3 linked regions of the Homo sapiens genome follow. The protein of the gene in region 2 purifies or fractionates together with the protein of the main gene of each other region. This does not show direct contact. Each region holds a gene or a part of one and is shown on either strand. Other genes may lie near its edges.

What was found.
Region 1: the proteins of NYAP2 (region 2) and CYFIP2 purify together in Homo sapiens (affinity purification with western blotting, with the first as the bait; one study listed by BioGRID). This does not show direct contact.
Region 3: the proteins of NYAP2 (region 2) and ACOT9 purify together in Homo sapiens (affinity purification with western blotting, with the first as the bait; one study listed by BioGRID). This does not show direct contact.

Annotation. Positions count from the first base shown.
Region 1 is NC_000005.10:157,269,039-157,272,730, reverse strand, and holds part of CYFIP2 (cytoplasmic FMR1-interacting protein 2), read right to left. Parts: intron 3,408-3,692; exon of another isoform or gene 3,148-3,407; intron 1-3,147. UniProt on the Homo sapiens protein: Involved in T-cell adhesion and p53/TP53-dependent induction of apoptosis. Does not bind RNA. As component of the WAVE1 complex, required for BDNF-NTRK2 endocytic trafficking and signaling from early endosomes.
Region 2 is NC_000002.12:225,406,210-225,409,901, reverse strand, and holds part of NYAP2 (neuronal tyrosine-phosphorylated phosphoinositide-3-kinase adapter 2), read right to left. Parts: intron 1,039-3,692; 5' UTR 1,022-1,038; coding exon 801-1,021; intron 1-800.
Region 3 is NC_000023.11:23,702,916-23,705,368, forward strand, and holds part of ACOT9 (acyl-coenzyme A thioesterase 9, mitochondrial isoform a precursor), read right to left. Parts: intron 2,166-2,453; coding exon 2,078-2,165; intron 1,930-2,077; coding exon 1,779-1,929; intron 1,068-1,778; coding exon 979-1,067; 3' UTR 1-978. UniProt on the Homo sapiens protein: Mitochondrial acyl-CoA thioesterase. Catalyzes the hydrolysis of acyl-CoAs into free fatty acids and coenzyme A (CoA), regulating their respective intracellular levels. Regulates both mitochondrial lipid and amino acid metabolism.

The sequences.
Region 1 (3,692 bases), on a different chromosome or scaffold from region 2:
ACCTGATTTAGGTTAAAATAGAGCTCTTCCTATCTTGAGAGACGGGGGCAGGGGAGGGAGGGAGATGGTGTAAGAAAGTGAAATCTCCATCCATCACAGCAGGAAGTAAATAGACAACGTGCAGAATAGATAAATCGAGAAACAGCAGTGTAAGCATATCATTTAGAGATCTGGAGGCAGCTACTAGAAGAAACAGTGAGTTAAAAGTGGCAGCCTCTAGGGGAGGGTGGGTGCTGGATGGTTGTTTTTCATTATAAGGCTTTCAATACTATTTGATTTTTTAAAACATTTGTATATATCGTTTTGATCAAAATTTAATAATTTGCTTTAGAAGACAACCACCCAAAGTCTCCTTGTTAGCAGTTCAGACACCTGGCCGGTACCCAGCACTGACTGGCAAGGTGGTCTTTGTTGTTTCAGTCCCCTGCTCCTGTCCTCCGGGACCAGAGGCCCTATCACCTACAGCTTCTCTCCACACAGGGGACCTGCAGTCAGAGCCGAGAAATCAAGTCAGCCTCGACTTGGGCCACTGGAGAAGGCCTATCCTCCTCGTTGTTTATGAGTAGACTGAGTAGACAGAGAAAAAGATCTTGGTGGGGGCTAAAGGACTTTCCCCTTCGTTTGCCATTTTGCCCAGCTGCTTCCTGTGTTGTTAAGGTTGAGGTGGCCTTTGTGGTGACACCAAACCAGGCTACCAGCAGCTCAGGGGAACGGCCTCATGCTCTCAGGAGGGGAAGTCATGCCACCAAGGTGGCTTGCTGATTTGCTCCTGCTGGGGCCCTGGGGCTGTCATATGAGGAACACCAACATGACGCGTATGTGGGGAGAGGAGCTGCCTCTCAGATGCACCTGCTAAAACTCACAAGGGAAGCCATGCATCTGCTACGGAAACAAAGAGGAGGGCTTCAGGTCTGGCCACCAGATCGGAGCACGTGGAACTCAGCTCCATCGATGTGAAACCACAACTCGAACATGGCTCAGTATGAAGACAAAGGCCCCCAAATCACATTTTCACTCACTCTAAAAGGGCAAATTTCTCTGTCTGTAAAATGTGGAGGTTAGCCTTGGTTCTCTCTCAACCATGATGTCCAAACCTGCCTTGTGAAGGTTATTGCGGGTAACTTGTGCTAATAATAGCTTAAGCACTGAGGTTTGCAAACAAGGTACATTTTATTGTATGTGAGGCGAGGGTTCAAGATCTCTGTGTGATATTATTGCTTGCATGTTCATCTCTTCCCTTGAGTGGCAGGAATGGAGCAGAGTTGGGGGGTTGGCTGTGGGGGCTGATGTGTTCAGCATGTCAACATTGTCCATTTTGTGTACTAAAAAAACCACAACAGCAACCAGTTAAGAATCACTGGATTTGGGCCTCTCTCAGGACCCTCCCAACACTAAAGCAAATGACCATGACTACAGTTGAGACATTCCATCCAAAGGGCTTCCTTAAAGACATGTGTTAAGGATCATGCAGACCATTCTCTGTGGCCAAGGTATACAGGGCATAATAAACCTGTCCAAGGATACTCTTCCTTTGTGCCTTTGCTCAAACTGTCTCCACTCCCTTATGGACTGTCTTCTTCCCTTCTCAAATCTTACCGATCTATCATGGCCCACACGAAGACATGCCTTTTCCACAAAGGTCTGACCAGCCAAGCCCCTTAATGACCTTTATTTCTCTCACTCCCTTAGCACTCACAGTCTAGAGTCCACAGTTTTTAACTGCACGACAAACTGCTTTATATTTCACTAATTCTTTGGATTGCTAAGAATGCCAAGGATAGTCATCTTATCTGAGTTTGACCCATAGCAACCAGCACAGAGATAGGCACACACCAGGAATTACTTGCTTAATTAATACTTCATGAATGATTTGTTGACTGCATGAGCCAATGACCAAAATTCTTAACTTCTGGTTTAAAAAAATTAACAAGAAAGTTAAAATATCATGCTTCTCTAAGGTCCCATATCCAAGGCTGCCTTGTCAATATAAGAATCTGAGGAGAGTTCTTTAGAAAATCCTTCTGTCGTATAGTTTCCACTTCAAACCCTAAGAAGCAGGTCCTCATTTCTCTTTCCCATATGGAAGTATAACAGACTTGGAGATAGGGGGCTGACCTCTAGTTCTGAATTCTTATCTTGCCATTCATATCTTGCCAAAACAAATCTTAAAGCATCATATTTTAAAAGCACAAATCAAAAATAGTTCTCGGATATTCCTTAAGAGTTACTGCATGTCTTCTCTGAGGGTCAGCCCTGCAAATTCTCTTTGATCTCAGCCAGGCCTTCAGTGAAGTTAGACAATTCTCTCATTCTTCCCCAGTTTATTTCTTATTCCACCCACATAGGCAACTGTTCCAAACCCTGAAGTCTCCTGAAGTTTCCTAACCAGTCCATCACCTTTATTTCCTGCAGAGGACCTCACCTCCTGCCTTACTTAGAAAACAGAGAACATGGACAGACTAAACACACCTCTGTTTTACCTAGAGATTAAAGCCTAAGAACCATTGCTCTACAATGACCAAATAATGACGCAAACAGAATCAAAAGGTCTACTGATGAAGTCATCACTGGGTCTTTCTCAGGCATCTCGCAAGAAGGTCCTATTTACTTCCCTCTCTCACTGCCTGTATCTGAGTTGCCCAAAGTCTATCAAAATGCCACGCAACCAGAATGATCCCTGCAAGAAATTCTGCCTGAACTCAAGCTCTGCCTTCTCAAAACAATTTCTTTCAAGAATTTGCACCCTCTGTTGCCAGGGCCCAAGTATGGCTTAAATGGCTATTTTTTGAGGTACATCACACACAGCCCTTAGCATAATGCCCATGGCTAGAAAGCCAATATCTAAGCTCTTTGCATCCTGGGAGGCGTCCCATACCCACTGACTGAATTCTGAAGTGTCTTTGTACAGACAAGGCCATCCAGGGGCCTTGACAGAATCTGTGAATCACAAAGTGCCTTTAAGCTTCCCATTGGCTCAACAGTACAGAGAGGCCACAGATCCATCTTCTTAAAGTGACACACAATATATAATTAATAAATTGTTTCTTAAGGAATGGAGGGCATTTACCCAAAAGAGTCACACATTCAGGAGGCTCCTTCTCTATTTCCACGGCTTTTTTTTCTCAGACTGGGATTTACAGACATTACCTCATCCGCAGGCTTTCATGATGACAGGCAGGTAACAGTTGGGCAGGCTGCCTTCCATTGCTCAATTTTGAACGTCAGAGAGGTAGTGGCTGGTTTAAGGGCACACAGCAAGTCAGGGATCCTGTGTCCCATGCTCACTGTGCTGCTCTGTCTGCCCTGGAAGCAAAGCATGCCCTCAACATTTTTGGATGGTTGCAAAATGCTGAATTCTCACAGAGGAAGAGGCCCTTCCTTAACTCTACGTGTTGAAATGTGAGAATGGCCCTGGGCTTCTGCTTGGCTTGTTCCCTCCCACTTCTCCCTACCTACTCAGGTTCCACCCACCTCTCTTGTGCTACTTAAGAGCACTTCCCACCTGAAGCCTTTCACTTCATGCCCTATCACTCTTAACTTTCCCTTCCTTCGGCCGGTAAACTTGGGGCTGGGTTTACTGGTCACAGAGACCAACTTCCCTCAAAAAAGCAAAATTCAGGAAAGCTCTGGAGGGAGAGGGGCTGGTAATAGCCAAGGGTTGATTACATACATAAGCCAAATTCTTAATGATT
Region 2 (3,692 bases):
ATTTTGCACTTAGTAAGTGAACTTTATTTGAAGAAACAGGACTCCATCTGACACAGGTGTCTCTCTCTGTACCACCAGAAGACACACACACAGGCAAACTGAAAACATTGTAACATTCTTTTTAAAAAATCAAAAGATATGCATTCTTCTTTTGGTGTCAGCGCTCTAGGAAATTTAACCTCAATTTGGAAGGCCACCATCTGGGGCTCACCAGCTAGTAGCTGGTAGGTTTTGCATCATAAAAGTAATTCCATTTGAACAAACTTGTGGCACTTGGTAACAAACAAGAAATTTAACAGCCATAAAAGTCTGCATAGGGAGAGCACACCCTGAGGATTCTACCTGCCTTCAGAGGCTCACGTAAGTATAATTATTGATGTATCTTGGCCATAATCTAGAAAGAAGATGAGCTCTATTTAAAGGTAAGAACTATAACCAAAGGCCATTAAAGGTAGGGATTTTCATCAATCTTGGGCTATTAAAAGGTTTGTGTGTTCCCTTGCGTCTTTGCCAAGAGGTTATTGAGTATGAGCTTTTGTTCAGAGGAAATTGAATTTTTCCCCATCCTGTCTGTAGCTGCATATGCACACACACAAGGAAATAACTTTTGTTAACTAAGGATGCTGTTGGCAGTGTGGGTGGTGTTTTTGTTATAGTTGAGGGGTCGCTTTCATATGCTCTCACCAAGTCTAACTGACTCTGGAAGACCTTTTCTGACCAAGTGACAACATCACAACTTTAGCAGCCCTCATGGACTTTCTCATGTGCACAAAACTCAAAATAATTTTATTTATATTTACCGCTTTATTGCTTCTTCTTGTCTTCGGCGTTTTTCATTCTTCTCTTTCAAATAGGCTAGGTTAGTTTCATTTCTCAAGCGATCATTCTCTCGAGCAATATCTGACGCATTCTGAATAACCAAGCCATCATAGGCCTTCATCCCCATATCCTCAATGTACTGGAGAAATGTGTCCAAAGGGTCTTCCTCAGGATTAGAACTCATCATCTTGGAGGATATCATGTAAAGAGGAACACTGCCTGCAGGGTGAGAACACATTTTACTTTTATCCAGGGTGGGGAAAAAAGCAAGGTGCTGTTTATTATCCCTAACAACTCAAAACTCCAATAATTATGGCCAAATCCGATTGGAGAAAATATCTCACTAGAATAATTACAACCACAATATTTGAAGTAAATATTAAATAAGTGCTACCTGAATAGCAAACCTTCTCTCAAAGCAGCAACACTAGCAGGACAAAGGTCAAAGCTCTTGAACTAAAATATGATGGGAAGGGGTAAATACTGTATGCAAAGTTAAACATTTGGTTGCATAATTACAATAATAATTTTGTTTCTTAAAATGTGTTTTCACACAAAGAAGGTATATAAGATCCAAACTTCATGTATTTCTGATTGCCATAAAGACTTTTCTGTTCAATTTCAAGTAAAATGATGTAATTATTTGGAAAGAACTTTTGTACATATATGTGCTTTCCTTAGTTTTTGAAATTAAAATGTATGAATCTGAACTATGTATGCAAAATATAGTAGTAGTAAAAGAAAAACACATTTCTAATATAACTTTTCTAGAAAAGAATCCTTTTTAACTCTTCATTTCTTTCCATAATGTTCCTCCATAATGCCTTCATACTACAACTAACATATCATAGGTCACTAGGACCACATTAGTCCTGACCAGTCTGGTAATTCAAGCATTGACAACTGTTGTCTCATTGTTACATGAAGTTTTCAAAACTTGAGCCTCAGAAAAGATTACTGAGAAACCAAAATTAAATCAAAACAAAACAAAAAAGCATAGGAATTTCAACTAGTATATATTACTCTCAACTGTAAAATGATGCTAGTAATAACTCCTACCTCCTGCTGATGTGAAGATTATGAGAGATGAAGACTGTAAATAATTTAGAATAGAGTTCAACAATAGTAAGTATATAATACTATTAGCTAATATTATCATTAAAAAGTATGAACTGGCAGCAATAGTAATGTCAAATGGATATGTGTGGCTAGATGGGGAGATGGACAGATGGATGGAAGGAAGGCTTACTGTCCTAATTGCATATTAATTGTGGTATAAGAAACTGGTATAATTGAGTCAGATTAAAAAACCAAAAGCAAAGTCAATTAACAAGGGGAAAAATTTCTCCATTCAAAAGTTATCAATTCCCTTGCATGTTTTTCTTTCTTTACAAAACTTAGAAAGATATTATTAAATATCAGCCCAACTATTTGATGTAAAACTCCCAGACTTTCACTTTTTCAATTACAAATAATTTTCATTCTGATTTTTTTACAGGTATAGTCATGTTCCAAAACCTGGATAATAACTATGGAAATTTTACTTCTCATCAGACTTTATTAGCATTTCAGCTGCCAGTCAATCCATATTTGATTTGGAACCCATCCTGAATTTAAGGATTTTTCTCTCCTATCTAAGAAATTATTGAAACTGGAGTCTAGATAAGGTTGTTTGTTGACTCTTGATTTTTATGTTAAGTTTTTGTATGTTTTGTTTTATGTTAAGCTGTAATGGGTTAGCAAATGAAATGGACTTTTAATTCCAACTATCTGGTGTAATTGAATTGTATTTTACTATCAGTCCATCAGATTAGATGCTTACATGATGGACATGAAGAATAGTAAATTAATGCTACAAATGATTGCAATTTGGGGAAAAATACAAGAAAATGATTCTCAGAGAGCTAAAGCATTGCCATTGTCAGGAATTCACTTCTACCAAGGACTTTTGCACTAGGAGTGCCTGGATAAAAAAGATCAGCATAACTTCACGACAATTAATTCTACCCAAGTTAAGCAAGCCAAGTCACTATTACAAGAATTCTAGAGATAATGCCTCCGGCTGGAAGATGATCACTCCTTCTTTGCCCTCTAGCAAAATTGTATATTTCCCAATTGAATAAGGCATTATTACCCAAAGGTTTTAATTTTTTTCCTTAAGTTTTCCTCCAACCAAAATGACACCAGAGATTCCTACGCAGTTTCTATATTCCAAATATCAATAAGTTTATTTGTTTACCTCTGAAAGTTAATTACCTTCCTAAGTGGTCTTTCAAATTGGCTGGAATTTAAATTATTTTTGTTCTGAGAAATTATTAACTAATAATATTATAAAGTATTTACACTATAGAAAGATGCATTTTTTAAAAACAAAAAGGAGATCAAATTTTTTGAGATGAAAATGAACCATCACATCTAGTAAAACTTCAAAGTAATGAAAATTGAATAAATGTTTGTACACATGCTCCTGCCACCTAATTCTAGAAAAGTATTAAATTCCATGACCATTCTTTTTTTTCAAGTATTTGTTGAGCACGTGTTATGAAAAGCCCTAATGAAGGCAGAATTGTGTCCCTCTAGATGTCTTCGTGGCAGTGTTAGAGCAAAATAAATAAATAATTGCAATACTTGTGACTAGTGTTGATTTAGGTGGACTTCACTAGTTGGTCATACATGTTTTATTTTCACTGTTTTTAAGGGTGAACAAGAAATATTTTTCAACAGTCGTGTTAGTCTCCGAAAACGGTCACAGGCCCTGTCAATGTCTAAACATCACACCTCTTTGTTTACTTGTCCACATGTAAAAAGTATAATAGTTTGTAATATTGAGGAGGCTGTGAGGCTGTCCTGAAGGGCATGGATAAGGAGGCTGG
Region 3 (2,453 bases), on a different chromosome or scaffold from region 2:
TCCTATTTTTTAAATCAGATATATCCTGCGGAGCCACTAGCAGAATGTGCTAAATAGCTGTCTGGTGAATGAAAGAATGACCAAATGGTCCTGTATTTCCTTATCTAGATCATCTCTAAACACCTTCTAATGGTATGGTTTCAGACCTAAATCTTCCCACAAATCTTTACGGATGCAGTAACTTTTGTTAAATCCCTTCGCCCCAACTTTTCATCTACCCTCTGACAACAAAAGCTGGGAAATAGAGGGAAGCAAAGGAATCATGTACGGCTGATGGGATTTAGACAGCACAGAGCAAGTGGTTAGGTTTAAAGAACGTCATCCAAATACCCTGGCAGGAAACCTTGTATACTGACAGTTGCAATATGTGTAAGAAAAGAATGCATCCAATGGTATCCTCAATTAATTAATTAATTAATTAATTTTTGAGACAGTCTCTCTCTGTCGCCCAGGCTGGAGTGCAATGGTGCAATCTCAGCTCACTGCAACCTCCACCTCCTGGGTTCAAGCAATTCTCCTGCCTCAGCCTCCCAAGTAGCTGGGACTACAGGCACATGCCACCACGGCTAATTTTCTGTATTTTTAGTAGAGACAGGGTTTCACCATGTTGGCCAGGATGGTCTTGATCTCCTGACTTCATGATCCGCCCGCCTCAGCCTCCCAAAGTGCTGGGATTATAGGCATGAGCCACCACGCCCAGCCTCTCAATTTTTTTGTTTTTTCAGAAGATGGGAGGCAACATGGTAGGTTCACAATTAAAATTGTCTTGAAAGTATTTATTGTTTAATAATTCTTTCTCCCCTCAGCCCCATCCGGCCACTCTCTCTTTCTGCTTTTCTGATCATCCTAAAGGCTGAATACATCCTCCTCCTGTGTGGAGGACACGAAGCAATACTAAAATCAATACACTCGATCAGGTCTTCATCAGATACCACGTCACTGTGGGTAGAGTGCTAGTTTTCAACAAATGTGGTGTTCTTAGGGCTCCACAAGGTAGTCCTTTCTCAAGGTCGCTGGGCCACTCATGGAGTTGAAATGCCGCTGCCCATCTAAGTACAACATGGACTCTGAAACACAAGAAAGAGAACCTTGGAGAAACTTGTAATACCGTAGAAAACCATCATATCATCATACAAACACAAGACTACTTGGGAACACTGGGACAGAACAAGATACACTGTTGGGCCGGGGTGTGCCACATTCCCAAAGGAGCAGGCCATGACTCCTGTCCCCTTCCTTTGGCTGGATCAGTTTTTTTTTTTTTTTTTTTTTTGAGACGGAGTCTCGCTCTGTTGCCCAGACTGGAGTGCAGTGGCACAATCTCAGCTCACTGCAAGCTCCGCCTCCCAGGTTCACGCCATTCTCCTGCCTCAGCCTCCCGAGTAGCTGGGACTACAGGTGCCCGCCACCGTGCCCGGCTAATTTTTTTTTTTTTTTTTTTTTTCTAGTAGAGACGGGGTTTCACCGTGTTAGCCAGGATGGTCTCGATCTCCTGAACTCGTGATCTGCCCGTCTCGGCCTCCCAAAGTGCTGGGATTACAGGCATGAGCCACCACGCCCAGCCTGGCTGGATCAGTTTTTGACTACCAGTGGTTGCTTGCCCGCCTGGGGGCCACAGGCATCTTTGGCCTTCAGGGCTGCCAAATCTCAAAAGCAAAATCTCCTGAAGACATGCTCTTGTGCTGACAGGCATCAATACACTTCCTCCAATTCAAAAGGAGAAAAATGTCCTTAGAAGTTCTTCCCTTTGTTAGGGACAAGCAATAATCACTACTTACCTCCATATGTTTTTGGGAAAACCAATGGCACTTCTTTTTCCGACATGAACGTGAAATGAAAGACATTGGTGGTTGTATGCTGCTTCTCCTGCAGGGAGGCCACTTCACTGTGTACTCTGACTTGAATATAATTATTCTGAGTAAAGCATACCTAACAGATTATAGACACTATAATCAGTCAACTGCATTAGGAAGGGGAAAAAGGCAGTCATAAGAGAAAACAGTGGCTTTTTGATATAGAAACTTCTAGGCTCAAATGAAAAAAAAAAGTTGTATGTCATCTCTCATCACACACCTACCTGTGAAGAAAGAAAGAGCAATGAGCCAACCTCAACAGGTTTCTGAAACATGATGTCATCTACTGCTACCACAAACGGTCGAGAACCACTGTTGGGGGAAAGGACAGAATTTGGGGTATATTGCAAAATTCAGATGATCTCAATTGTTTCCTCTAACAACTAGCTGAAGCAAAATAAAAATGAACGAAGAATAAAGTTAGAGAAGGGGGAAAAGATCCTACCAGTGAGAAATGGTAAGAGACGCCATCGTGAGCAGATTAGGGCCAAAATAACTATATCTTTTCCTTTCTACATATCATCACTGTATTTTCTCAGTAGTTTTTTTAATGTATGAACTTACAAAGTCAGAGAAACAACCTTCTAAAATGAAGATCAA